Linked DNA regions of Homo sapiens: regions 2, 3 and 4 are each reported to be linked to region 1. Evidence: microRNA targets listed by miRTarBase, many of them from high-throughput screens and not tested one by one. Region 1 holds a microRNA gene; each other region holds the end of a gene's coding sequence.
The links. Region 1 holds the annotated microRNA hsa-miR-4765 (UGAGUGAUUGAUAGCUAUGUUC, at 5,252-5,273, shown strand). A microRNA usually pairs through its seed, bases 2 to 8, with sites in the 3' UTR of a target mRNA and lowers its output. Matches are read on the target gene's strand: a 7mer-m8 pairs with bases 2 to 8, a 7mer-A1 pairs with bases 2 to 7 and ends in A, and an 8mer does both.

Region 2: the mRNA of PEBP1 is a reported target of hsa-miR-4765. Seed matches in the 3' UTR shown: 7mer-A1 at 5,953-5,959 and 7mer-A1 at 5,676-5,682.
Region 3: miRTarBase lists GTPBP2 as a target of hsa-miR-4765. Seed matches in the 3' UTR shown: 7mer-A1 at 5,535-5,541.
Region 4: miRTarBase lists NPAT as a target of hsa-miR-4765. Seed matches in the 3' UTR shown: 7mer-m8 at 5,646-5,652.

What each region holds. Positions count from the first base shown.
Region 1 is chr2:32,630,049-32,637,171 of GRCh38, forward strand. MIR4765 (microRNA 4765) reads left to right here and starts at 5,207; the gene lies at 5,207-5,283. It overlaps TTC27 (tetratricopeptide repeat domain 27), which reads left to right. Exons shown (of 20, transcript NM_017735.5): 2 at 475-652; 3 at 3,828-3,957.
Region 2 is chr12:118,143,815-118,150,937 of GRCh38, reverse strand. PEBP1 (phosphatidylethanolamine binding protein 1) reads right to left here. Exons shown (of 4, transcript NM_002567.4): 4 at 5,354-6,352. The coding sequence ends at 6,135. TAOK3 (TAO kinase 3) reads left to right here. Exons shown (of 21, transcript NM_016281.4): 21 at 1-1,137. Among named protein-coding and RNA genes, the nearest start is that of PEBP1, 11 kb to the right of the region's middle.
Region 3 is chr6:43,615,476-43,622,598 of GRCh38, forward strand. It overlaps GTPBP2 (GTP binding protein 2), which reads right to left. Exons shown (of 12, transcript NM_019096.5): 11 at 6,528-6,692; 12 at 5,019-6,315. The coding sequence ends at 6,139. POLH (DNA polymerase eta) reads left to right here. Exons shown (of 11, transcript NM_006502.3): 11 at 1-5,048. Among named protein-coding and RNA genes, the nearest start is that of GTPBP2, 10 kb to the right of the region's middle.
Region 4 is chr11:108,152,666-108,159,788 of GRCh38, forward strand. NPAT (nuclear protein, coactivator of histone transcription) reads right to left here. Exons shown (of 18, transcript NM_002519.3): 18 at 4,550-6,354. The coding sequence ends at 6,277. Among named protein-coding and RNA genes, the nearest start is that of ACAT1, 35 kb to the left of the region's middle.

The DNA of each region.
Region 1 (7,123 bases):
GATATCACAAGTGCAAAGTGTGGAGGCAGGAATACGCATGGGACATTAGGGAAACAATGAGTAAACCAGCGCTCTTGGAGTGACTTTTCAAGAAGAGAAAATAATGGAGGTAGAAAGAACCAGATTGTGAAAAGTTTTAGAACCTTGACTAAGGAAACTTTTGTATTGTCAGTAGGAATCTTTGTGAATTTCCCAGCAAAAGACTAAATACCTATTAATGAGGAATATTATTTCTGGGGCTGACTTCCACTTTGGGGCTCATAGTCAGTATGAGTGAGCTGCTAATTCTAGGAGAGAGAATGTTTGTAGAATGATGGAAATTTACTGAGTGCCTTGTGACTGACATACAGTAATCATTCTAAGTCTATAGATTGTTTTTGCACACTAAAATGGTAGATTTACCTAATAGTGTTATCCTTTACGGTATGAAAAATAATTTTTTTTGGATTACCGCACTAATTTTTTATATTACAGAGAGTGGATCTTTCCTACAATTGCTACTGGAAGGGAACTATGAAGCCATATTCTTAAATTCAATGACTCAAAATATTTTTAATTCAACAACAACCGCTGAAGAAAAGATTGATAGCTACCTGGAGAAGCAGGTAGTAACATTCCTGGATTACTCAACAGATTTGGACACAACGGAAAGGTAGAATTTTATTTGAAATTTTCATAGAGGAACAGAGCAAATACATTTAATAGCACCTTGACAGGGTAAGGCCCTGATTTTAGCAGTTGAGAAACCTTGCCTTATATTTTACTCAAGACTCATGGTGTACCAAGTAATCTATGTAAAAACTCATCCAGAAGTCCATCCAGAATGAAGAAGTAAAGTGGTGCAGGATAAAATGGTTTCATATATGAGACTGGCACATATTTTGGTGTTAACTGCAAATGCTTAGGTCTGGTCGGCTTTACCCACCGGCAAAACTTCAGACCTTATTTCCTTTAACTTAAAAACATACTTTCAGGCTGGGTGCAGTGCTTCACGCCTGTAGTCCCAGTGCTTTCGGAGGCCGAGGCGGGCGGATCACATGAGGTCAGGAGTTTAAGACCAGCCTGGCAAACATGGTGAAACCCCGTCTATACAAAAATACAAAAATTAGCTGGGCATGGTGGCATGCGCCTGTAATCCCAGCTGCTAGGGAGGCTGAGGCCGAAGAATCGCTTGAACCTGGGAGGTGGAGGTTGTAGTGAGCCAATATCCCGCCATTGCACTCTAGCCTGGGCGACAGAGCGAGACTCTGTCTCAAAAAAAAACCAAAAAACAAAAAACATACTTTCAATCTTGTTATTTCTGCATAGCTGAGTGCTAATTTGTAACTATTTATTATGTTTTAGATTATTATCTTTATAGAGCTCAGAGAACTTAATGTTTTTGTAAGGAAGCCCTTGGTTTACCTTCTTCCATTAAAGTTTGTGTAATTTTATAGGGTTAAGTATAGCAGATAGTTACACAGCAGGGAAACCTAAGCTTTTCAGTGGCTTATATTTCATTGTTATAAATTTGATACCTCTATCTTTCGTCTACTATCTGTGGCAACCATGTCAAGCTTTAATTATCTTATAAATGCATGCAATTTTATTTTACCATTATTTCTAGGAAATAGCTTCATTTAGTCCTTCAACAAATAAACTATTGTAGTAGATGTGGAGGTTCTGAGGATGAATAAAGCATAACCCATATTCATAAGGAGTTTGCAAAAGAATGCTACTACAGGCTTTTAATTTTATTTTGAAAATTAATATTATTCATTTTCTTTTTTCTTTTTTTTTTTTGATGGAGTATCACTCTGTTGCCCAGGCTGGAGTGCAGAGGCGTGATCTCGGCTCACTGCAACCTCCGCCTCCCAAGTTCAAGTGATTCTCTTCCCTCAGGTTCCCATGTAGCTGGGATTACAGGCCTGTGCCACACCTGGCTCATTTTTTTTGTATGTTTAGTAGAGATGGGGTTTCACCATGTTGGCCAGGCTGGTCTTGAACTGCTGACCTCAGGTGATCTGCCCACCTCGGCCTCCCAAAGTGCTGGGATTACAGACGTGAGCCACTTCGCCCAGCCTCCATTTAATTTTTTTTAGTTTACTGGTAGTTATGTTCCTTTGGTATCATTCTTTTTTTTTTTTTTTTTTAGTTCCTTTTTGTAGAGATGGTGTCTTGATATGTTGCTCAGGCTGGTCTCGAACTCCTGGGCTCAAGCAATCCTCACCTCTGCCTCACTAAGTGTGGGGATTATAGGCATGAGTCACTCCGCCCGGCTGGATTCTCATTGCTTTCTTATATGTGTGCACTCTCATAGCAACTAGCCTTGTGGCACCCATTAAAACAACACATTCACACAAATGCATTATTCACTGATATACCAGATTTCTATCTTGTCACATAAAGCTAAAAAGAGACATTTCAGTTGACTCATTTTCAGACATTTGAAAGTTAAAGTGTATTTTCAGTTCACCTTATGGATTTTGTTTTTTGATTAGGACAGTTTATTAAGGCTGTTTTCTCCAAATTTCCAAACTTCTGATTGCATACCAGCTCTTTTGTTATCTTTTTTCTCTAATGCTGCTTATTTGCATTGCATCCAGAGTTTTATATTTTTGCTACCATAGGCTTGTATGTTTGATTTTTTTTTTTCTTTTTCTGAAAGACTCTTCCTTTTAAGGAAGGGCCTAGGGGCTGTGGGGAAAAAAGTGATTACTAATACTTTCTCTTCAGAATGAAACTCCAGGATTCCCTGGCTGTTATTTGCTAGAGTTGGATCTGTACCTATTTAGATCCTAATTTAGGGTTTGGCACATTATGGCTGGCAGGCTAACTAAGTGGCTAAGAATTAATGGGTTTTACATTTTTAAAGGGTTGGAAAAAAACAAACATGATATGCAAAGCCTAAAATATTTCATATTTAGAAAAAGTTTGCCTATCCCTGTCTCACATCACAGCAAGACTGAAAAATAGAGTTTTCACTAAAATATCTATATGTTTTGTTGTTGTTGTTGTTCTAGCATTTGGTGGTATGGGATTGGTAAACAATTAGCAACAACTTTATATCATCACTTTTCTTTTGTATAAAGTCAGTTTTCTATACATCTTGCAACATCAGAGCTGTTAAAGGGAGTGCAAGAAAAACTTATAGATGTCTGATCAGAACCTAAATCAACACCGTTCAAGATAATTTTCCGTGGAGATAGAAGTGCTCTCTATCTTCATTGCCCACATGGTAGCCACTAGCCACACTTAACTATTGAGCACTTGAAATATGGAAAGTATGACTAAGGAACTGAATTATAAATTTTATTAATTTTAACTAATGCAAATTTAAACCATGTTTGGCTCGTGGCTATAATATTGGATATTGTAGACCTAATTTCTTTTTTTTTTAAGAGAGACAGGGTCTCGCTTTATCATCTAGGCTGGAGTACAGTGCTATGATCAAAGCTTACTACAGCCTCAAACTCCTGGGCTGCAAGCAATCCTCATGCATCAGCCTCTTGAGTAGCTGGGATGTACCACCATGCCGGCTAACTTTTAATTTTTTTGTAGAGACAGGGTCTCACTATGTTTCTCAGGCTGGTTTTGAACTCCTGGGTTCAAATGATCCTCCTACCGTGGCCTTCCAAAGTGCTGGAATTACAGGCATGAACCACTGTGCCTAGCTAACCTAAATTGTTTTAAGTTTTAGAAATTTTTTTTTTTGGTAATACTCTAGGATAGTCTCAATAAATGTTGATAGATATTATTTTCTTAATAAAACTGAAATGGAATAGTGTGTTTGAGATTATACAGTGATAGTAGTTCATATTTATTTCTTTAACCATTCTTATATGCAGACAACAGTTGATATTTCTACTTGGTGTGAGCAGTTTGCAACTTTTTGTTCAGAGCAACTGGACGGGGCCCCCTGTTGACTTACACCCTCAGGACTTTTTGTCATCTGTTTTGTTCCAGCAATTCAGTGAGGTATGCTTCTTGAAAATGTTGTATGTAATTATTATTATGTTATTTATTTTTTATAAGCAGGTCTTTATAAACTGGAACTCATAGTAGGAAAGAAACATGACTTTATGGTTTGCACAAAAGTACTAAGAATGCTTGTTCATTGATCAGATTTTCACAGATTTCCAGAAGTTCCTTTGTCAAACTCCTCTTCATACACACTCCATTTTATGGAGCTGTGTTAGCTGTGTTTTTTAATGAAAGTACAGACAGCTGCACCAGTTGTTTAGTTGGTTGTATCACCTCAGTTACATAAAGATTTTTTTTTTTTGAGATGGTATCTCACTCAGTCATCCAGGCTGTTGTACAGTGGCTGGATTACAGCTCACTGCACCCTCAACCTACTCAGGCTCAGGCGATCTTCCCACCTCAGCCTCCCAAGTAGTTGGGACTACAGTTGCATGCCAACATGTCCAGCTAATTTTTTTGTAGAGATGGAGTTTTGCCATGTTGCCCAGGCTGGTCTGAAACTCCTGGGCTCAAGTGGTCTGCCTGCCTCAGCCTCCCAAAGTGCTAGGATTATAGGTGTGAGCGCTGTACATAAAGATCTTTAATGGCAAAGCAGCAAATCTGGAAATCTGTTTAATTTTATTTCAGGTAAGTTTTTAACTAATTAATTAATTAATTTTTTTTGAGACAGAGTCTTGCTCTGTCACCCAGGCTGGAGTACAATGGCGCGATCTCAGCTCACTGCAACCTCTGCCCCATGGGTTCAAGCAATTCTTCTGCTTCAGCCTCCCTAGTAGCTGGGATTACAGGCGTGTGCTACCACACTTGGCTAATTTTTGTATTTTTACTAGATGTGGGGTTTCTCCATGTTGGCCAGGCTGGTCCCAAACTCCTGACCTTAAGTGATCCTCCCACCTCAGCCTCCCAAAGTGCTGGGTTTACAGGCGTGAGCCACCATTCCCGGCTTGCAGGTAAGTTTTGATACTGTACTTAAGAATGGCTCCCAGGAGTGGTTTGCTCCCAGGGGTGGCTTTAAATTACAAATACTTTATTAAAGTTTCTGGCACAGCATTGCTTCATGGTGATTATTATCCATTGTGAAGATAATATTATCGATCTGTGCCAGTGTGTCGCCAATAGAGCTTGCAGTTTGAGTTCCTCAGGAATCTTGAGCTCCTATATAGAGGGTCTGGCTAGTATGAGATGATCTACAAAAGAAGTATGGTTTAAATCAAAGTAAGAACTTTGATTTATCCAGCCACTTTGGTGATTTTGAACGTAGCTATCCACCACTCAGCCTGGAAAAAGCTGAGTGATTGATAGCTATGTTCAAAATCACCAAATTGTATCCAGAACTCGTGCAGCAAAACAGACCTAGTGTTACCTGGTTTCTCAGAATTAGGTGTAGCAAGTAGGCCGGGCACAGTGGCTCATGCCTGTAATCCCAGCACTTTGGAAGGCCAAGGCGGGCGGTTCACGAGGTCAGGAGTTCAAGACCAGCCTGATCAACATGGTGAAACTCCGTCTTACTAAAAATACAAAAATTAGCCGGGTGTGGTGGTGCACGCTTGTAATCCCAGCTACTCAGGAGGCTGAGGCAGGACAATTGCTTGAACCCGGGAGGCGGAGGTTGCAGTGAGCCAAGATCACGCCACTGCACTCCAGCCTGGGTGACAGAGTGAGACTCCATTTCAAAAAAAGAAAAAAGAAAAAGAATTGGGTGTAGCAAGTAAATGTGGAATAGAGTTATTAGAGATATGTGTTAATAATTTGATGGGGGGGTAGAAAGAGAAGAAGTGCAAAAACAAGCATAAAGTGAAAACCACAATAATTAACTCTTTGCATATCAGCTTAGTGAGTCACTATATATACTTCATTAGAGTAATTTTAATCCATAATGCTGATCCTAATTATAACTGAAAGGTTAAAAGATGTTTTGTGTCTTATGTCTATGAAGGGAATTTATAATTTATATTCTACAGAGGTTTTCATCCAAAATGGGAGTAAAAAAACCCCAAACCCTAAATGATTGTAGCAGTTAAAGAGATAAGCTTCAGTTATCTAGAAATGTACTTAGGAAACATCTCATTCCCTCTCTTATTATGTATGAATCAGTTTCTGGCTTCTATGGCCCTATAGTATAGATTAGAAATCCACCAAACAGCCAAAGCCATAAATATCTCCTGAACACTGATGTGTGGTTTGAATGGTACTTAATTCGCATTTCTTTTTTTTTGTTTTGAGACGGAGTCTCACTCTGTCGCCCAGGCTGGAGTGCAGTGGTGCGATCTCGGCTCACTGCAGTCTCTGCCTCCCGGGTTCAAATGATTCTCCCACCTCAGCCTCCCAAGCAGCTGGGACTACAGGTGCTCACCACCACGCCCGGCTAATTTTTGTATTTTTAGTAGAGACGGGGTTTCACCATGTTGGCCAGGGTGGTCTCAAACTCCTGACCTCAGGTGATCCACCCGCCTCGGCCTCCCAAAGTGTTAGGATTATGGTGTGAGCCACTGCGCCTGGCCTTAATTCACATTTCTTGTGCCAATTTGGTCCTTACAGATTTGAGGTAATCTATAGGTGAAAAGACTGAAGCTCAGAGTGGTAAAAGAATCTTGTCAGAGATCTGTAGCTGGGGCATTGGAATCCACATTTTCTGGTTCCAAATCCAGTACTCTTCTATACTAGTGTAGAAGCACCTGTAAATTCAGGTAGCAAATCAAAACAATATGGAAATGAGTTTCATGAGAAGTTCAGACCATAAGAAATATTGCCATTAACAAAGAGATTTGTGGAAGCTGGATTTTGTCAAAGAAGACCTTTTAGTTGGAAGTGGACCTTGAGCTAGAACCTGAAGGATGGTTAGAAAATGGATAGAGAAGAGGAAAATATCCATTCTAGGTGCAGTCATATGAGCAGGAATTTAGAGGAGAGGACAGCATAGTGTTTGTGGGAAAAGGATGCTTTGAACTTGCCTCTTTTAGCAGTGAAAAATCACTTGATGGAGGTCATTTGGAGTTGTAGGAAACTTTGACTAAGTCTTTGATTTTAACTTTTTTATTGGAACTACTGCCAACACTTAAAAGAGCATATGAAATGTATACAATTTAAATAATAAATCTCCTTTGTACTCACAACCTAGCTTGAGTGTCACAGGTAATGCTCTCCAGATAGTATACCATGT
Region 2 (7,123 bases), not on the chromosome of region 1:
GACCCTGCAAAACCACATTCCCCATTTTAACGGGCGTTGCTCTCACTCTCTCTCTCTCTTACTCTTACTGACATCGTGTCGGACTAGTGCCTGTTTATTCTTACTCCATCAGGGGCCCCCTTCCTCCCCCCGTGTCAACTTTCAGTGCTGGCCAAAACCTGGCCGTCTCTTCTATTCACAGTACACGTCACAGTATTGATGTGATTCAAAATGTTTCAGTGAAAACTTTGGAGACAGTTTTAACAAAACCAATAAACCAACAACAAAAAAAGTGGATGTATATTGCTTTAAGCAATCACTCATTACCACCAATCTGTGAAAGTAAAGCAAAAAATAATAATAATAAATGCCAAGGGGGAGAGAGACACAATATCCGCAGCCTTACACCTTAACTAGCTGCTGCATTATTTTATTTTATTTTATTTTTTTGGTATTTATTCATCAGGAATAAAAAAAACAAAGTTTTATTAAAGATTGAAAATTTGATACATTTTACAGAAACTAATTGTGATGTACATATCAGTGGTGACATATTATTACTTTTTTGGGGACGGGGGGTGGGTGGGGTGAAGAGATCTTGTGATTTTTAAGAACCTGCTGGCAAGAGTTTAACTTGTCTTCAGCATATTCTGATTGTATCATAATCATTTTCTGCTGTTGCAGAGGATGTGAATACACTTAAGGAGCTCACAGAATCCCAGTAGCACAAATTGGGCTTTGGCAAATCGTGTATTTTGTGTATAGAAGGAATTTAAGGAGAGGTATTACTTATTTTCATATTGTATTTTAACTGTTTCTCTGATCAAATTTTTTTACTTCCTCCTCCTGTTCCTCCCCACCTCCCTCCTTTTCCAGTTCAGTATTTGGAGTTCAACACTGTCTCTCAATCAGATCATCTTGATCTTTTTCTTTATCTCCCTTCCCCTTCCTAAGTCCCATTTCTTGGTCATAAATATTGCATTATTCACACTTTCAAACTGTGTATTTTCTTACAATAAAAAATGATGAAAAAAAAAAAGGCTTTACTTCTTTTGCATGCACTTTAAAAACAAAACAAAACATTTTTCAGGTTCCAAGGAAGAGCATGATAACTGTCAGAGCTTTTAATTATATTTGTAAATAAAAGTGTTCATCACATCGCCTTGCTGTGTTATTGTAGCAGGAAGTTTCCCTTCTAGGTTCACCAGTTCACAACTCAGAGGGACAGCCACCCTCCTGAAACTGTTCTCCATAGCCTCGGTCGCTCCAAGAAGAGCCATTCAAGCCTTTCAGGTAAAGCTCTGTCTTCCAAGTTCTTCTATGGGGCTGAAGATAGTGTTGCACCATTCGATGTGGGCACGTGGTCAACTGCACCTTTCTGTCCTAAAGAATAGAAGGCATGTGCGCGCGCACGCGCGCACACACACACACACACACACAAAACCCCCCACGTGCCAGTCGTGCATAGAAGCATGCATTGCTGAAGAGAGAAATTGGGCACCCTTAAAGAAAAGCAGGCTGTGGAGAAGGCACTATAACCAAATATTTGAAATGACCCCACTGTAATATTAGATCCCTCTCCCCTCATATTCTGCTTTTATTAGAATAATTTTACATGTAAAACAATGAGATAGTAAAAAATATAAAATTTCAGGGATATGATTTGGGAGTCAGGACAATCTCAGTAAGATCCCAAATGCTTAAGCCTCTATCAATCAGGCTTGTCCAACCCACCTTATTTTGTTGTTACTCTGTTTTGTTTTGTTCTAGGCTTTTGGCAGCCTGAAGCTATGGTTTTTGGTTTCTGTGTCTAGTGATAAATGGAAAAGGGGGACGAGGAAGGGGCTTTACTGGCCCAACCAGAAACAGAAACTAAGAACCCATGACTTGTGTTCTCTCCCTTGGACACTCCTGGAAATTGCTCTTTAGAGTATGATGACGTGGGGTGGGCCCAGCACTTTGGAAGGCTGAGGTGGGTGGATCACCTGAGGTCAGGAATTCAAGACCAGCCTGGCCAACATGGTGAAACCCCATCTCTACTAAAAATACAAAAATTAGCTGGGTGTGGTGGCGGGCACCTGTAATCCCACCTACTCGGGAGGCTGAGGCAGGAGAATCGCTTGAACGTGGGAGGCGGAGGTTGCAGTGAGCCAAGATGGCACCACTGCACTCCAGCCTGGGCAACAACAGTGAAACTCTGTTTCAAAAGAAAAGAATATGATGACCTAAAGATCACTCTTGTTTCCTACAGGATGTTCATGTATCGGAGACAAATGTGACCAGTCATGTTCACTCTGATAGGCTAAAGCAGAAAGGTATACTCATAAATAATTATCAACATGGGTTAATCCCAACTACAAAACCTTCTGTAACATCACACTCAGTGATAATTGTGTTTCCTAAGTACCTCTGTTCATTGGAGTTTCTATATTAGGTACATCTGAAAATAATACTGGAAAGGGTTAGAGAAACAGATAACGTCGATGGCGTGCTTACGCTTGCCACATGATGGAACACTAGGCTTTCACAAATGAAGAAATAAGCTCACTCCAGTGGCAGGGTGGGGTCTGAATCGAGACCTGTCTGATCTATACCCAAAGGAGTATTCCACCTTCAGTAGGGTAGAAAAGCTTCCTGTAGCCTCTTTCATCCATTTCTCACTGTGGTGAGAAATGTCTAGCTAGTTTGGGAAAGGGCCCTATGTCTGAGATTGTAGGTGCTATCTTTAGAAAAGGTCTCGGTGGCTCACAGCTGTAATCCCAGCACTTTGGGAGATCGAGGTGGGTGGATCATCTGAGGTCAGGAGTTTGAGATCAGCCTGGCCAACATGGTGAAACCCCGTCTCTACTAAAAATACAAAAATCAGCCGGGCGTGGTGGTGGGCGCCTATAATCCCAGCTACTCGGGAGGCTGAGGCAGGAGAATCGCTTGAACCCGGGAGGCGGAGACTGCAGTGAGCCAAGATGGCACCACTGCACTCCAGCCTGAGCAACAGAATGAGACTCGGTCTCAAAAAAAAGTCCCACTGCGCAAGTTTGTCAAGGATGTGTCCCAGGGCAGTTACCCGGAAGCAGGGATGTGGGTCCCTGCTCCTAACAAACACCTGCTATGGACAGAGTTGTCCTACTCCTCCTAGTACCTGCCTGAGGAGGCAGTAAGGAAGGCAGGGGGACTAGGAAGGCTGAGGCAGGAGAATCGCTTGAACCCAGGAGGCGGAGGCTGCAGTGAGGAAACAGACCTGAGGAAACTGGACTTTTGTACTTTGTTCTTATATGACAATCAGGCCAAGTTTAGTCATTTACATACATTAACTCTTAATCCCAAAAAAGATGATTTTGTCCTCCAACAACGCTGTGAGGTAAATAAGGCAGGCTGACAACCCCCTGCAACCCTGATGTTTTTTCAAATGAGGAAGCTGGAATTTGTGACCCAGTGGGCCCGGTGGTTATCAGCTGGACCTTGAGGCCAGAGTTGAGTTCAGAATGGGGGTCACCCCCTTCCTAGCCGCCCTTGGGGAAGTTCACATCACATACCAGTTGAAGGCATCACCCTTCTTTCTTAGATGACTACTGCCTTCTCATATATATGTATTTTTTTTTCTCTTTAGTTCCGTGTTAGTATTAATATGTTTTTCTTTTTCTATTTTTTTTTTAGATGGAGTGTCGCTCTGTCACCCAGGTTGGAGTGCAGTGGCGTGATGTTGGCTCACTGCATCCTCCACCTCCCAGGTTTAAGCAGTTCTTCTGCCTCCACCTCCCAAGTAGCTGGAATTACTGCAGCCTTGACCTCCTGACCTCAAGTGATCCTCCCACCTCAGCCTCCCTAGTAGCTGGGACTACAGGAACGAGTCCACACATCGGGCTAATTTTTGCATTTTTTTAGAGAGAGAGGGGTTTTGCCATGTTGCCCAGGCTGGTGATCTGCCCCACCTTGGCCTCACAAAGTGCTGGGATTACAGGTGTGAGTCTCCATGCCCAGACTTTACATTTATTTCCAAGGTCAACAGGACAGTTTTTTTTTTTTTCGAGACAGAGTTTCGCTCTTGTCACCCAGGCTTAAGTGCAATGGCGCGATCACAGCTCACTGCAACCTCGCCTCCCAGGCTCAAGCGATTCTCCTGCCTTAGCCTCCCTAGTAGCTGGGATTACAAGCGCCCGCCACCATGTCCAGCTAATTTTTGTATTTTTAGTAGGGATGGTGTTTTACCATGTTGGCCAGGCTGGTCTTGAACTCCTGACCTCAGTTCATCCACCCACCTCGGCCTCTCAAAGTGCTGGGATTACAGGCGTGAGCCACGGCGCCCAGCTGACAGTTGTTTTCTTTGTAACTTGTGTTCAACAAAATCTTATTACGTAAAAAAACGAATTTTAGAACTCTAAAGTAAAAAAAAAAAAAAAAAAAAAAAAACTTCCAGGCTTGGCATGGTGGCTCATGCCTGTAATCCCAGCACTTTGGGAGGCCAAAGTGGTCAGGAGGTCAGGAGTTTGAGAGCCGCCTGGCCAACATGGCAAAACCCCTTTTCTACTAAAAATACAAAATTAGCTGGGCATAGTGGTGCATGCCTGTAATCCCAGCTACTCAGGAGGCTGAGGCAAGAGAATCACTTGAACCCACCCAGGAGGTGGAGGTTGCGGTGAGCCGAGATTATTCCACTGCGTTCCAGCCTGGGTGACAGGGTGAGACTCCATCTCAAAAAAATTAAAAAAAGAAAAAAAGAAAACTTACATCTACCTTATGTGCTTCCAGCAAGGCAACATTTCCAAGTTTTTTCAGAGAAAAAAGTACTGCAGTGAAAGATGGGGAAGGGCTAGTCATTAGCACCTGTCAGGCCTGATTCAGGACCCCCCCCTTTGCATCGCAGAGACCAAATCACAGTGATTTGCACCTTCAAACACCTCCTTTCCTTTCTTTCGGTACATCAGATGGCATGAGACCGTGACCTTCTCACCCTCCTACCCTGCGCACCTCTTTGGTACTGAGCCTCTGTGGATAACACATCAGAACGGGAAGTGCAGGCTACTTCTTAGGCATTGTTACGGTGTCCGCGCCAGACTTCACCAAGGGGGAAGGTTTTCAGCCATCTTCTTTAGAACATCCTTCTTGGGTCAAAAGGACCACTTGAAGCAAAGGTGCTTTTTGGGCAATAAGACTCGGCCTCACATTTTATGATTTTTTTTTTAGAAACCTCAAATCTGAACTGTTTGCTCCTGCTGTGGGTTAATGGCACATGTAGAGGCACAGACCCTCCATATGGCCCCTAGAACAAGTCCCAGCTGTTACTTGCTGGTCACGGAGACGACTCACCCTGAGACTTGACTTCTCACACTTATGAAACCTATACCCAATAGAACAAAACATCCGGGGACTCAGTTCCTTCATTCAGGTTTCTATTTTTATTCAACTACAAGCAAACAGCACAATTAATGCAACATTCAGCAACTCCAGACCAGCTTTTCTTACCCCCATGAAGAACGATCAATTTAAAAAACACAGATCTCAGGTTTCCTCCCAAGCTGTCAGCGAGCGCTGCTACCGGTCTAGATTGCCATGTCCCAACAACAGCAAAGCCACCCTCCCTCCTGCTTCTTCCAGGATTGCTCTTTAAAGGGACCAGAGTGACATACTGATGCCTACTGAGGCATCTGAGATGCACTGTGTTGGAGGTTAGCCTCAATGCCAGCCTCTGGTTGTCTAGGTGAGTGACATCACCATAAAATCACATTGTGTACCATTCTGGACTCAGGATCACAAAGGCAGAGGCAACCAATCTTTTTTTTTTTTTTTTTTTTTAAACCTCCCTTAAAGATTCTTTGATGCTTTGCTCTATCACTGTAGACCTGGTCTTTTTCCCCCCAGTTTTTTCTTTTTTACATTCTGGGTTGCTATTTTCAGATTAATAATTTGATGACCCCATCACAGTACCAAAATACCCCCCAAAATGAAGTTCAAATTTGATCAAAACATAAATCAGAGTGAGTGAGTAAAATTATAAAGGCCAGGCAGCAGGAAAAGTCACCCTCAACTACCATCTGACTGGTCAGGTCTCACCCATGCCAAGGGGGGCAGGAAGAGGAGAAATCTATTATACATGCAACACTGAACTGGGGAACATGGCTTGGGGCCTCCAGGACAGTTCAGGTCCCCAAGCTAACCCCCTACTTCCCAGACAGCTGCTCGTACAGTTTGGGCACATAGTCATCCCACTCGGCCTGGTAACACGTGCCAGCCACCGGGGCCCTGAGCTCATACTTTTTACGGAAGGACGCCACCTTGAATTTGCCACGGTGGTCTCCAGATCGGTTGCTGAGGATGGGCTCGTCACACTTTAGCGGCCTGTCCTGCTCGTAAACCAGCCAGACATAGCGGTGGAGGCCTGTGGGGAGAGGCAGAGGGAAGATGTACACACAGCCCAGCACTTGAGATGGGGACATCATCCATTTTTATCGAATGTTTCAACATGGAGGCACCCAGACCACACCATTTACAAGGAGGACACCGAGGGTCCAGACAGGTATTTGGTGCAAATTAACATTTAATGGCAATTAACACATTAATGGCAAAAACCGCAATTACTTTTGCATCAACCTAATAGAATGTGTTAGGCCCCTGCTGTAACTGGTGTCAAGCCCAAGCCCTTAGTTCCAGCCTCTCCTGGCCTGTGGGATCTGGCCTCTGCACCCCCTTATCCTCGCCTCCCAACGAGCCTCTGTGCTCTTCATTCATCCCACTTCAGGCTCCCGGACCTTCTCAAGTCACCACCCACCACCCCCCATCAGAACACCCATTTCACTTCTGTCAGGTAGGAGCAACCAATTAAGGACAAAGCAAATCAATGACCCGGGCCCACCATACCACAGTCGAGCCTCTAGGATAAAGGAGAACATTTTCTTTCTACCTCCAAAATTTACTTGCTTAGAAAACTGGAGGACTACTTCGAAGTGACCCAACCTCACTTTAACTAAGCAGCTTTCTACAAGCTTCAATGATGTACTGGATGCAAATAGGTACCATGAGCTCTTATTTTTTTAAAAAGTGGGTTTTTTTTTTTTTTTTGAGACGGAGTCTCACTCTGTTGCCTAGGCGTGGAGTGCAGTGGCATGATCTCGGCTCACTACAACCTCAGCCTCCTGGGTTCAAGCAATTC
Region 3 (7,123 bases), not on the chromosome of region 1:
ACCCAGGAGGCAGAGGTTGGAGTGAGCTGAGATCGCGCCACCGCACTCCAGCCTGGGCAACAGAGCGAGACTCCATCTCAAACAAAAACAAGAACAAAAACAAACATAAAGTTGGCACAGAAAAGGGACCAAGTTTAAAAAAGGGTTTTAAATGTAATGAGACTTGCATAGTTAAAAAAAAAAAAGGGATTATTTTTATTTTTATTTTTTATTTTTGAGACGGAGTCTCCCTCTGTCGTCAGGCTAGAATGCAGTGGTGCGTTCTCAGCTCACCGCAACCTCCGTCTCCTGGGTTCAAGCAATTCTCCTGCCTCAGCCTCCCAAGTAGCTGGGACTACAGGCACGTGCTACCACACTCAGCTAATTTTTGTATTTTTAATAGAGATGAGGTTTCACCATGTTGGCCAGGATGGTCTCGATTGCTTGACCTCATGATCCGCCTGCCTCGACCTCCCAAAGTTGCTGGGATTACAGATGTTAGCCACCGATCCTGGCCCCCCCAAAAAAAGGATTTTAAGAAAAACTTCTCTTGGCCGGGCGCAGTGGCTCACGCCTGCAATCCCAGCACTTTGGGAGGCCGAGGCGGGCGGATCACAAGGTCAGGAGATCGAGACCACGGTGAAACCCCGTCTCTACTAAAAAATACAAAAAAAAATTAGCCGGGTGCGGTGGCAGGCGCCTGTAGTCCCAGCTACTCGGGAGGCTGAGGCAGGAGAATGGTGTGAACCCGGGAGGCGGAGCTTGCAGTGAGCCGAGAGCGCGCCACTGCACTCCAGCCTGGGTGACAGAGCGAGACTCCGTCTCAAAAAAAAAAAAAAAAGAAAAACTTCTCTTTAGGCTGGGTGCGGTTCCTCATGCCTATAATCCCAGCATTTAGGGAGGCTGAGGTGAGTGGATTGCAGGAGCTCAGGAGTTCGAGACCAGCCTGGGCAAGGTGGCAAAACCCCGTCTCTACTAAAAAAAATTAGCTGGGCTTGGTGGCAGGCGCCTGTAATCCCAGGTACTCGGGAGACTGAGGCAGGAGAATTGCTTGAACCTGGAAGGTGGAGGTTGCAGTGAGTTGAGATCACACCAATGCACTCCAGCCAGGGTGAGAGTGAGAGACTGTCTCAAAAAAAAAAAAAACAAAAGAAAAACTTCTCTCTAGCTCTGTGACGGGCAGTTCAGATAATACCTTCACCAGATTTACCTGTTTTCAGCTGAAGAATGTGAGATGAAGCCTTGAAACCCTAAAAGTGATATGGTAACTAGGGCAGGTCTTTCTGTACATAAAAGTGACTTAATAAACAGTGAATTTCATACAGGTAAACCCTATTATACCCTCAGTTCTAACCATTGGCCTATCTCTTGCGTTTTGTTCTAATGTAGAATTAGATTGCTACTTGACTAGTTCAGGAACTCTGTTTAGATCTGATAAGTCATAATCAAATCTTGCCAGGCGTGGTGGTTTATGCCTGTTATCCCAGCACTTTGGGAGGCCAAGGCAGGTGGACCACGTGAAGTCAGGAGTTCAAGACAAGCATGGCCAACATGGCGAAACCCTGTATCTACTAAAAATACAAAAATTAGCCGGGCATGGTGGTGGGTGCGTGTAATCCCAGCTAGTTGGGAGGCTGAGGCAGGAGAATCACTTGAACCTGGGAGGCAGAGGTTGCAGTGAGCCGAGATTTCCACTGCATTCCAGCCTGGGCGATAGAGTAACTCTGTCTCAAAAAAACCCACTAGATCATCTCTAGAACATTGCTACTCCCAAGTATGATTTGAGGAACAGCAGCCTCAGTATCACCAGGGAACTTATTAGAAATAGTCTCAGCCTCACCACTATTCCCACTTAATTGTAATCTGATATTAACAAGATTTCCCAATGTGGGTCAGGTGTGGTGGCTCATGCCTGTAATCCCACACTTTGGGAGGCCAAGGTGGGCGGATCACTTGAGGCTGGGAGTTTGAGACCAGGCTGGCCAACATGGGGAAAACCCATCTCTACAAAAAATAACAAAAATTAGGTGTGTGTGGTGACGCATGCGTGTAATCCCAGCTACTTAGGAGGCTGAGGCAGGAGAATCACTTGAATCTGGGAGGCAGAGGTTGTAGTGAGCTGAGATTGTGCCACTGCACTCCAGTCTGGGCAACAGAGTGACACTGTTTAAAAAAAAAAAAATTCCCAATGTGGGCCGGGTGCAGTGGCTCATGCCTGTAATCCCAGCACTTTGGGAGGCTGAGGTGGGTGTATCACGAGGTCAAGAGATCAAGGCCATCCTGGCCAACATGGTGAAACCCCGTCTCTACTGAAAATACAACTGGGCGTGGTGGTGCACGCCTGTAGTCCCAGCTACTTGGGAGGCTGAGGCAGAAGAATTGCTTGACCTGGGAGGCGGAGCTTGCAGTGAGCCCAGATCGTGCCACTGCACTGCACCCTGGCGACACAGCAAGACTGTCTCAAAAAAAAAAAAATTCCCAATGTGTATCTTAAAGTTTGAGAAATGCTGATCTAAAAGATACTAATGACCAGGTGTGTAGAGGACATTTTCTTAAGCCCTTAAGTACAAATTTAAGAGGTAAGTGCTTCAGCCATTAGGGTTACTGGCTTGTTCATCTTTCCCACTGAGTGTAAATATTTAGCTTAGGGTTTAAAATTTGTTATGTAGCTTTTTGCACTTGTCCATGTTTATACTACTGTATTATTATTATTTTTTTTTGAGATGGAGTCTCGCTGTGTAGCCAGGCTGGAGTGCAGTGGTGCAATCTTGGCTCACTGCAACCTCCGTCTCTCGGGTTCAAGCAATTCTCCTGCCTCAGCTTCCCGAATAGCTGAGACTACAAGCGTGCACCACCATGCCCAGCTAATTTTTGTATTTTTAGTAGAGACAGGTTTTCACCATGTTGGCCAGGCTGGTCTCTATCTAGACCTCGTGATCCATCCGCCTCGGCCTCCCAAAGTGCTGGGATTATAGGCATGAGCCACCACGCCCAGCCTATAGTACTGTATTCTTATTCTCCACTCTTGTGTGTGAAAAGTCAGCTCTTTTGGCTTTTCTGTTATGGGGAAACTTGAATTACACAGGGAACCCAACTGAAGAAAATGAACTGAAGTAGGTGGCGCTGGGTGAAGTGGGCCCAGAGAATGGTGTACACATCCCTCCCATACATATACCCAAACTTCTATTTTTTTATGTGACGGAGTTTCTCTCATCGCCCCGGCTGGAATGCAATGGCACGATCTCGGCTCACTGCAACCTCCGCCTCCCGGGTTCAAGCGATTCTCCTGCATCAGCCTCCTGAGTAGCTGGGATTATAGGCATGCACCATCACGCCTGGCTAATTTTTGTATTTTTAGTAGAGATGGGGTTTCGCCACGTTGGCCAGGCTGGTCTTGAACTCTTGATCTCAAGTGATCCACCCGCCCTGGCCTCCCAAAGTGCTGGGATTACAGGCCTGAGCCACCAGGCCAGCCCCAACTTCTACTTTTTATTTTATTTATAAATTGGGGGGGGGGTTCTATATTTAGTTTGAAGAGGTGGGGAAGATTTGAAAACCACTAGATTTACCAGGAAATTTTTTTCTTCAAAAATATTTTCTGCTTTTATGATACTTGAATATCTAATAAAAGACAATATTTAGCCAGTCACGGTGGCTGATGCTTGTAATCCTAACACTTTGGGAGGCTGAGGTGGGTGGACTACTGGAGCCCTGGAGTTCAAAACCGGCCTAAGCCACATGGCAAAACAGTCTTTACAAAAAATACAAAGATGGTGGCTTATGCCTGTAGTCGTACCTACTCAGGAGGCTGAGGTTGGGAGGATCACCTGAATCTGGGAGTTTGGGGCTGCAATAAGCCATGATTGTGCCGCTGCACTCCAGCCTGGGTGACAGTCTGAGACCCTGTCTCAAAAAAAAAAAAAAAAAAAAAAAAAAAAAAGACTACATTCACTGTATACGTGGCCTTTTCCCCCTAACTAGCTATGTAGCTTCTTAAAGGCAAAGATTCTTCATAGTGCTTTGCACATGATAGGTGCTGATACTCATTGGATGAATGTATATAGTGAAGAATTTTAGATCTGATTACCACAATTGGGATCATAAACATGTATAAACTCCTTGGGAGTCTGCCTTATATACTTTTTATCCCCCTAAATGTTCCATTAATGTTGCAGAGAGGCTCACTAGTTCCTGGAGATGTCTTATTAAGTACTGAAATGTGATTTTCCAAAATTTTCTTTACAATACAGGCAAAAGATAAGTAAATTGTGGACAAAGCTTTCATCTCTATCAGCAGCTATAGAGAGGAAGTAAACAGCTTAGCCCCTAATACAGGAGGAAGTTGTTCAACTACAGGCTTGTTAGTAGCAAGTTAAACCAGTTACATTTTATAAAACAGCCTGAGTGGTAGGGAAGCTATCACTTTAATACTCTAGAGGCAGAATGCCACATAGGACTTTGGGTCACATATTTCTTTTCCAGGGTCTCCTCAAAATGCAGTTTCTATTTACAGTTGACTTTGGCCCCTATTTACCCATAAAATGTCAAAATCAAGTAGTATGAACATGGAAACAGGAGCAGGGACTAAGGTTTGGTCAAGTGGCCCTCATTGTTCCAAGAGTAATTTAGGCTATGTAAACTTGAAAAATATGGGACCAGATTACCTTTTGTCTCTAAATTCTACTCTTCTTTAAGTAGCTGGCACTGTATCTCTGCCAGGGCACAGAAGTGGGCTCCTTACTATTCTGACCACTAGCAAGTGGCCAACTCTTCAAATACAGGGTAGCTACCTATTTCACGTGAAAGGCCTCAGTATTCTGCTCACTTGAACTACGGAAAATAGGCCACAATACTTGGTTACAATACTGGAACTCTGAACCTATGTGGAGGAGAGAAAAACAATGGTGAACGAGATACCAGCTGGGCTCTTTCCACATTCAGGGCTCAGCAGTGTTGGGGTTTCACTTGTCTCTAATCCTGAAGAGGTATCTAGCCCTGGAAGGAAGCTGAGCCTGTAGCTAACGCATAAGCACAGTGTATTCAATAAAACATTTTTATTCTGTACAATATATATGTGTATTTAAATATATATACATATGTATATATATATATATGCACAGAGAAACCTTAGCCAACAAATCCCTGAGTCCATGGGAACCCAGGACACTAACAAAGGGAAAGGAGAGTCCATGCCTAAAGAGTAGGAAATATGGCAACATCTTTCCCTTTCCTCCTGGTTCCCTGCAACAGAGGGAAGGGAACAGTCACTACAAATTACTAAAACGAGGGTTTAGGTGGGGCAGGAAAGTGGGGTGAGAGTGGTAGGATGGGGAACTCAGATGCCACCAGTCTGGGAAAGTAAAACATTTGATCCAGCATGAAAGCCAACATGACCGCAGAGGAAAAAGACCAGACTGATGGGCATGCAGCTGGCCTTTGGTATATGCCAAGCCTTTGCTTGGTAGCCCCACGCCTGGGCCAGCACAACAAATAGCACCTGTGGGGCCTATAAGCCGGGAGGGGATGGGGGAGATAGGGACTGGGGAAATGGCCCTTGAGTGAAGGAAAGGGAGATAAAGCTGAGGAAGAGGCCTCAGGCCTCAGCACAGGGTGGCAACACTACCATTCACTGTCCCTGTGCCATTTCTTCAGACTCTGGGCCGCCACCACCACCAGATGGCCAAGAGCAGATAACCTTTTGTCCACAGCCAGGTAGAGATGGGCAACTTACATGGCCTTGAGAAGAGGTATAGAAAAAGGAGTGCTTTTGAGGGCTACCCCCTGTTGTGACCATTCCTGAAGTGCAGAGACCACACCAGCAAAACATGCCCAGTCTTAGTAGTGGGGACGAAGAATTGATGAGTGGATCCAGTCAGCTCCGGCAGACAGGCCACAGGGTTGCCAGGTTTGATGAGCCAACCAGGTGAGCACACAGCTTCGGAGCACTGCCCTGAATCCTGTCTTCTCCCTCAGGACTGCCCTTTCCTGGCCACACCAAGTTTGGCACCTCTCCAGAAAGTTGGCAGGGAGCAAGTGGCAGACAGCACCCCTCTCTCCCTAGCCTATTAACACACAGAGCCGCCAATGGCAGGGCAGCATGGCCAGAAGTCACCTTATATATTGTAGGGACAGCAATAGAACTGTCCCTGCCTGAAGGGTTCAGAAGCCCATGTTGGCCTGGGCTTCTCCTGCTGTAATGGCTTGTACATCAGTGACATGGCCGATGCCCTTGGTGACACCCTCCCGGAACAGCAGTTTGGCGCCCACCTTCAGGTACTCTGGGTGTTTCAGGAAGCGGAAACGTACCACTGCCTTCTCGCCTGTCCGCAGTTTGTCCTGCAGCAAATAAGTGGTCACTCCCCTGGCCAGTGCCTTCTGTCCCATTCTCTGCCAGCCGTGGCTCTCCACCCTCCAGAGGCCTATCAGGCCGCTACCCACCCTAAGTGGGGTTTTATTCCCATTGTGGGATCAAGGAGTTCTCTGCCAGTCTGGGGCAGGCCTCCCTCTTTTCTGACCTCTGGAGAAATGGAAGGCCAGGTCCCTCTCACCTTGGCATGGATCTTTTCCACCACTGCCGTCTGACGTACGTTGCCCACGTGTACTGTCACCTGGAATCCTCGTCGGAAGGTGGTGGCATGGAACAGTAAGACTATCTCTGCCTCAAACACCGAGCAGATGGTAGGATTCATCTCCGGGCTCACCATCACCATGCCCTGGGGAGGAACAGACCCCAGGCCCAGGAAGGGCAGCTCTAACATCAGACTCTCCCTCCCCAGCCACCCCACACCCTTTATAGCTCCTGAATTTCCTCTTCCTCTACACAACTCTAAACACAAAGACCTCAAAAGACAATAATCAAAACTCTCAGAGGGAATGAGTCTTTACCCACCTCCTACGTCCTCTAGCCCATCTAACGCTTCACATTTTTAGGGTCCTGAACACTAAAAATAGTGTTCATTAAAAACAGTGTAACATAGTGATTCATATTTAGTTATCTGTACCTCATGAGTACGTTAAGCTGTTTTTATAGTCTACGTAGCTAGACCAGAAGCTTCTTGGGTCAGAGAGTGTGTTTCCTCTGAGTTTCTCTGAAGCACCTTAGATAGGTGCTCATTCAGTAGCCAGTCTCCTAGGCACTTCTCTT
Region 4 (7,123 bases), not on the chromosome of region 1:
GAGAAAAAAAAATGGAAAACTGCTTAAGCAAAAGGCTCCAGGCCTAGATAATTTAGTAGTGATTTAGTCTCAAGGAACAGTTATTTCTCATTCTAAATAAACTGTTGCAGAAAAAAGAAATAAAAAACAGCATCAGCTATAATAGCAACTAGTTCTTAAAGTGCTTATTATGTTCCAGGCATTAATCTAAGTGCTTTTACATATATTGTACAATTTAAACTTCACACTTTAGCACTGGTACTATTTATTATCCCCAATATTCAAATAAACTAGAAAAAGAAGGAAAGGTTTAAAATTCATTTTAAAAACTGGCATAAGTTTGAAACCAATCTCATTAAAAGTAAACTTTTCATTGGGTGTGTTGGTGTGCACTTGTAGTCCCAGCTACTCATGAAGTTGAGGCAGGAGGATCCTTTGAGCCCAGTAGTTCAAGGCTATAGTGGGCTATGACTGTGCCCATGAACAGCCACTGCACTCTAGCCTGGGCAATATAGCAAGACCTTGTCTCAAAAACAAAAACCAAAAACATTTAAATAAAATATTCACAAAGCAAACTTACTTAAAATAATCACTAATATAAAAAGAAATTCATGAGTTCAATGAAAATATTTTAATTGATGCTTAAACGTGGCAATTAAGTTGAACAGGTACTTCTGATGTAAAATCGTAAAACTCTACCAACAAAAGCAAACATTATACTTAATAAAAGCAAACATTATACCTAACATTGCCATTAAAATGGGGAACAAGACAATGAAGCAGACTTTGATCATTATTAGTTGCACTGGAAGTGCTAATATCAGTGTAGTAAAAATAAATAAAATTGGAAAATAATTATTTACAGATAATACTTCACAAATTAAAAAGTAGCACTGGTAAATCCATTAGTACTAACAGACTTCACTCAGTATAGAAAATAAATAGAACTAAAATATAAAAGATTTTGGGACTGGCACAGTGGCTCACGCCTGTAATCCCAGCACCTCGGGAGGCTGAGGTGGGTGAATCACCTGAGGTCAGGAGTTCAAGACCAGCCTGGACAATATGGTGAAACCCTGTCTCTACTAAAAATACAAAAATTAACTGGGTGTGGTGGCGCACAACTGTAATCCCAGCTACTGAGGAGGCTCAGGAAGGAGAATTGCTTGAACCTGGGAGGCGGAGGTTACAGTCACCAGAGATGACACCAATGCCCTCTGGCCTGGGCGACAGAGTGAGACTATCTCAAAAAAAAAAAAAAAAAGATTTTCAACATTAATTAAGACAGTGTGTTATTAGCACATCTTAAAGAAAGCAGACCAATGGAACAGCATAGAGTCCAGAAACAAACCTACACATTTACCAGCTTATGAGAAAAGTAACTGTGCAATGTAGTTGGGAAAGGATAATCTTTGGTAATAAATAGTGTGGGTTAATTGTATATCAATGTGGAAAATCAATTCCAGATAGATGGTCAAATCAAAATGAAATAGGTTGAACCATAACGCTTTCAGAAGAATAACAAGGGAGAATACTCAGACACCTAACATCCATCCGAAAAAGGACCTGTATCCAGAATACAGAAAGAACACGTAAAAATCAGTAAGAAAAAGGCAGACACCCAATACTAAAATGGGCAAAAACCTTGGACTGTCCACAAAAGATAACCCAAATAGTATTTGAAAAGGTTTTCAACTTCATTAAAAAAAAAACAAAACCCAAAAAACCAACACCAAATTAAAACCAAAACATATACCAATACACACCACTAAAATGGCTAAATGAAAATATCTAACATCAGAAATAACACAGAGTATCGAGAACTTATTATACTGTTGAGTGCAGCATAAGTTGTTACAACCATTCTGGAAAATGAAAAAATCTGAATGTCTGAATATATGCAACTGTGTTCCAGCAACCCTATTCCTAAGTATTTATCCAACTGAGAAGTGTAATGCATTCATAAAAAAATGTGCAAGAATGTTCACAGCACAGTCTGTTCACAATAAGCACCTTTTACCATCTATAAAATGGATTAACTGTAATATAATACAATGAATATATACACAGCATTGAGCATGACTGAGCTGAATTATACAAAACGAGTGTTTCTCACAGATTATATACTCCATGTATCCACTGATATCGTTAAGGAAAACAAAGCTAAATCTCTGGTGCCAGAAGTCACAATAATGACTACTCTAGGGTACTGGTAATGTTCAAAGTGATTATGTGGATGTATTTACTTAAAGAAAATTCACTGAAGGGCATGAATTTATAGTGGTGCACTTTTCTCTTTATGTGTCTCCATAAAAATTTTATATTAATAAAGCAAGACCATCCCTACATAACAGCAATAACCAGTTAAAACTATGAAATGAAGAGCTTTCTAAAAATAGTAACAAACAAAAACATCCAGTTTAGCAAGAAATTTCTGATAGGGATAACTATAACACTTTGATACATACCATATGATCGTTACCCTTTGCTTCTTTATGAATTAGCTTATGACATTAATGTAGTTCAAATATTCCAATAGAAATTTAACCTGAAATAATTCAAGTGATTCTAAAGTTCACCAGGAAGCATAAAAGGGTGAATACTTGAAAAAACAAAAACAGTAACAGTGGACACAAAAGTTATAATGATTTAATCAGTGGCACAGAATAGACGATACACATACCATATAGTGTGTATATATGTGTGTACATTTAATACAAGTCCAAAATCTTTGATCATACACACCTTTGGGGTTAGCTGGGGTTCATAAATCAGAATATTTTGGATTTCTAAAAAATAACTCAAATGTATGCACCATATGCCCCCCAGTTGAGTCTGGAACAGCAGACTAATCAACATTACTATAAATGAGATAAAGACTGTTAAGTAGCCTCGTGTCATTTCAGGTCAGGTTTGCCACAGAATGAGTTCTGATGTTAAATCTAGGGGAAAAAAATTGGTTGCCGGAACCTTTTGGGTTTTAGAATTGTGAATAAGAGATTGTTAATCAGTGTAGGATAAGACAGACATCTTAAATAAATGAGCAGGGGAAAGGAAAGCTTATCTGAACAAACTGTGCAGTGGTTAAATTGTCAAGTGAACAAATTGTCAAGCAGTTAAATATTTAGGGAAAAAATGTACATTGACCCTTTTTTCATATCAGGTACCAAAACAAGTAACAAATGGATTAGGAGCTAACTCCTAATTTTACCAAATCAGGAAACACAAACCTAGAAACAGGTGATGATATAGGTGAATATGCCTCTGGAAATGGATAAGCATATGCTATGCAAAAAAATGACAATTTGCTGGTAGAAATGTAAATTGACGCAAGTTTAATAGCAGCATATGGCAAAATGTACTGAGATCCTTAAAAAAAGGTACACTAACTTCTTGATTTGGTAATTCTACTCTCTAAAATTTCTAAGGAAATAGTTAACATAAACAAATGTTTATAAAAATGCTCACTGCTGTTTTTGTTTGTAATAGCTAAAAAAAGGAAAAAGCTTTATATTATTGGAAGTAAAAGCAGCAGCTGGATGAGGTGGCTCACATGCCTGTAATCCCAACACCTGGGAGGCCGAGGCAGGAGGACTGCTTGAGTCCAAGAGTTTGATATCATCCTGGGCAACATAGTGAGACCCCATCTCTCTGAAAGACAAAAACAAAAAACAAAAAACAAAAAAACCAAAAAAACCCAAAAAACTGGGTGCGATGGGATATGTCTGTGGTCCCAGCTACTCGGGAGGCTGAGGTAGGAGGATCACTTGAGCCTGGGAGATCGAGGCTGCAGTGAGCCATGATTGTGCCACTGTACTTCAGCCTGCAACAGAGTGAGACCCTCTCTCAAAAAAAAAAAAAAAAAACAAAACAAAAAGCATTAGGAAGCTATATGTACCATGTGTTCAACAATGTAGATACAAATTTACGAAAAAAAGACAAAAGTATGACAAAATGATAACATTTATAAAAAGAAAAAAGTACACAATGAGTCCATTGCTTAAAGGAAGCAGCAAAATAACTAATAATAAAGTCAAAACTTATGTAATTTCAGAAAGCTGGGCCTGAGCCTAAAAGATGATGACCAGAGAAAGGATGAATGCAGAATATATAGTAATATGCTTTTGAAATTACTCCTAATAGTCATGACATGTAGCCTTTGCATGAATGCTGATGGATGCTTTTCTTATGCGCAATTTCAACACACTATAGTTCTAATATATCCAGGGCTAAATCTGTAACAAGATTTTACTTAACAACACTTCTCAGATTTGGCATACACTGACTGCATTAACCTCTAAGTAATATCCAAACAACAGACTGGATCCTCATATGTAATTATAAAAACAGCCATGGATTGTTGTAGTATACATCAACCCTGAAATGCAGTCACTGGGCATTTAAGTATTCAAATAGGTTACCAGGTACAATAGTATAATTAAGTTCAGGACCTGTGGACTTTTAAGGTAAAATGGGGATATGATTTTGCTCTTGAACATAAAAGCTCCAAGTACAAGTTATCTTTCAACTTTACTTAGCAGTTCCTGGTTAGTTAACTATGAATCTTGAAGAAAGTAAACTTATTTTATTTGTATATGAATTTTCAGTGCTTAGTACATACAACTATGAATTGAATAAGAAGAAAACTGTGATTTTCAGCATTGTACAAACTCCCAAAAAGAACTGACTTGCAAAGGAATTTAATCAGTTTCTAAACAAGACTGCCAATGTAAAGTAATTCAAACTTTTGAAGTTAATGAAAATATTTATTCAAACCTAACTGTAGTACAGTCTCAAGCTGAGTTAAATAAACATTAACTATATGATATTTAGTTCCTTAGGAATAGACCACTGCCACACCATACAAATTTCTTACATCACAAGTTTTTGCAGTAAGGTTCAGCAATTAAGAAGACATGATTTCTACACTGAGAAATGTTGTGTTAAAGTTGGATGGATTTATTTTTTTAAAGGCCCAGTACAAAAAAATGGTTGAGGAAAGTGACTCTTCAACAAAATATACACCTGTAGAAAAAAATCCCTAATATACTGATATTTAATTGAACGGAAAGTACTAAAGAGAACATACTTTAATATCTAGGCACAATTGGTCAGGTACTAATTATAATTTCTGTTCTCATTTAAAAGTTTAAACCAATTCTTCAACTGGACTGATGTGTGTGAGTCTAATACAGAGAAGGCACCTCTCTCATCTCTCACTCTCCTTAAGGACCTTTTGAGAGAAACTCTTTGTAACACTTTAAGGGACACAGACAATGCACTATATCTAAGTATAGATATAGTTATTTAACATACCCATTGTAGGAGAAACTAAAATATAAAACTATGATTTCTCTTTTTACATCTTATGATGGACACAACACCAGAAGATAATCCTCCACATAAACTCTCACATAGAACACAAGATTTAAATTATATGTGCATTGGTCACTACAATGTAAAGAGTTCTATGAATTAGTGCAATTCTTTAAATCCCCAGCATTTAGGGGAAAAGTACATACCGAGAAATCTCTACTACAAACCAAAATTTTATGGCTCAATAGTCTAACCACTTAAAGTTCTGTAAAAAATCTTAAGTTATAAATGAAAGATCAGAACATTCAATAAATGGTTTACAAAATTCTCTCTTTAAAACAAAGAGAACAGAGTGATCAGAGTAGGTAAAGTGTGAAATTCCAGAAATATAATACTTACAGCAATTATAAGAAAGGGGTAGTATTCACTCTAGGAAAAAAACTCATCAAACTGTTGATTTCTAATTAGATATTTTGCTATCAGTTGAGGTGGTTATTATTTTGTAGTACTTAGTGATTGTGTATTTAAATGTCTTATTGAATAGTTACTGAAGGTAATTTATAAGAATAAGCATCATTTTCCTCCAAAACAAGTGAGAAACTATTCCAGATGAGTAAGTCTCAGAATTAGGGATCATAAGAAGTCAAAAAACACAGTGTAAGAACATTAGGTTGATTTAACCTCTATTTCAACAAGATTTACACAGTATTTACAATATGGAATTGTCAAAGCTATACAGTTTTGCAGATTGGCTTTACTTACATTTCTGCAAACGTTTTTCCCAAAATAAAAATATACCAAGTAAGTCTATTTACAAACTAGGAAGCTGTTTCAGAAACAGCATGATTTAGATATAAAGTGAAGTTTCAGTACAATGAAAGTGCAGGTCATGCTTTCAGATTCTGTCAATATCCCATTCCCTACACTCAGTTTAAGGGATATGAGTTTTTAACACCTACTGTTCTTATGTGTCCAGAATGTTTACTCATCATAATGCAATGATAACAAAAATTTGTCTACATCCATTCCTGCTGGAAATGAACTGGGAAGCTTCTTTTTCTGTTGAAAAAGAGAAAGAAAAAATAAACTCAAAACAAGGCCAAAATGCTTTCTTAGTAAGTCACCTAAAACAGTATATTGGGTTCTTTCACATACTACTAAAATTGTCAAACTTTTTTAGTCTATTAGAATTTTACTTCTATAGAGAAGTAGAGACAAGTTTTATAAACCCAAAGTTACTTAAATATACTTCAATGGCACCTGAATGTTAGTTTATGGCAAAAGACATGATACAAATCCAGAGTGTCTGAATGTTGAATGAGACAAGATAGAACATGCTTTCTATGTTAGGTGGTTATTACTGCTTAGAAAGCTTTACTAACAGATGTTTAGGGTTACAGGTACTTATCAGTTCCAAAACTTAATATACACTAGATACTTTATGTATACTACATTTAGACTTCACAACCTAAGATACCTGGTAATATCATGTCAAGTGATGAGGCTGAGACTCAGAAAGGCTACAGACTTAACCATGATCACAGGACCAATAAGCAGTAGATGCAGGATTCAAACCCAGACTTGTAGGGCAACAAAGCCTAAATTATTTCCCTGATACCATACTTCCTCTATGATATTTTAAGCACTTTCTTTCTATTCAATCCACTTACTAAACAGCTAACCAAATCGAAAATAAATGGATTTCATTTATCAATGCTATCCCTGCACTGCCTTCCTAGAGACAACCATGCTTAAATAAAAAACATAAGGCCAGGCGCAGTGGCTCATGCTTGTAATCCCAGCACTTTGGGAGGCCAAGGTGCGCAGA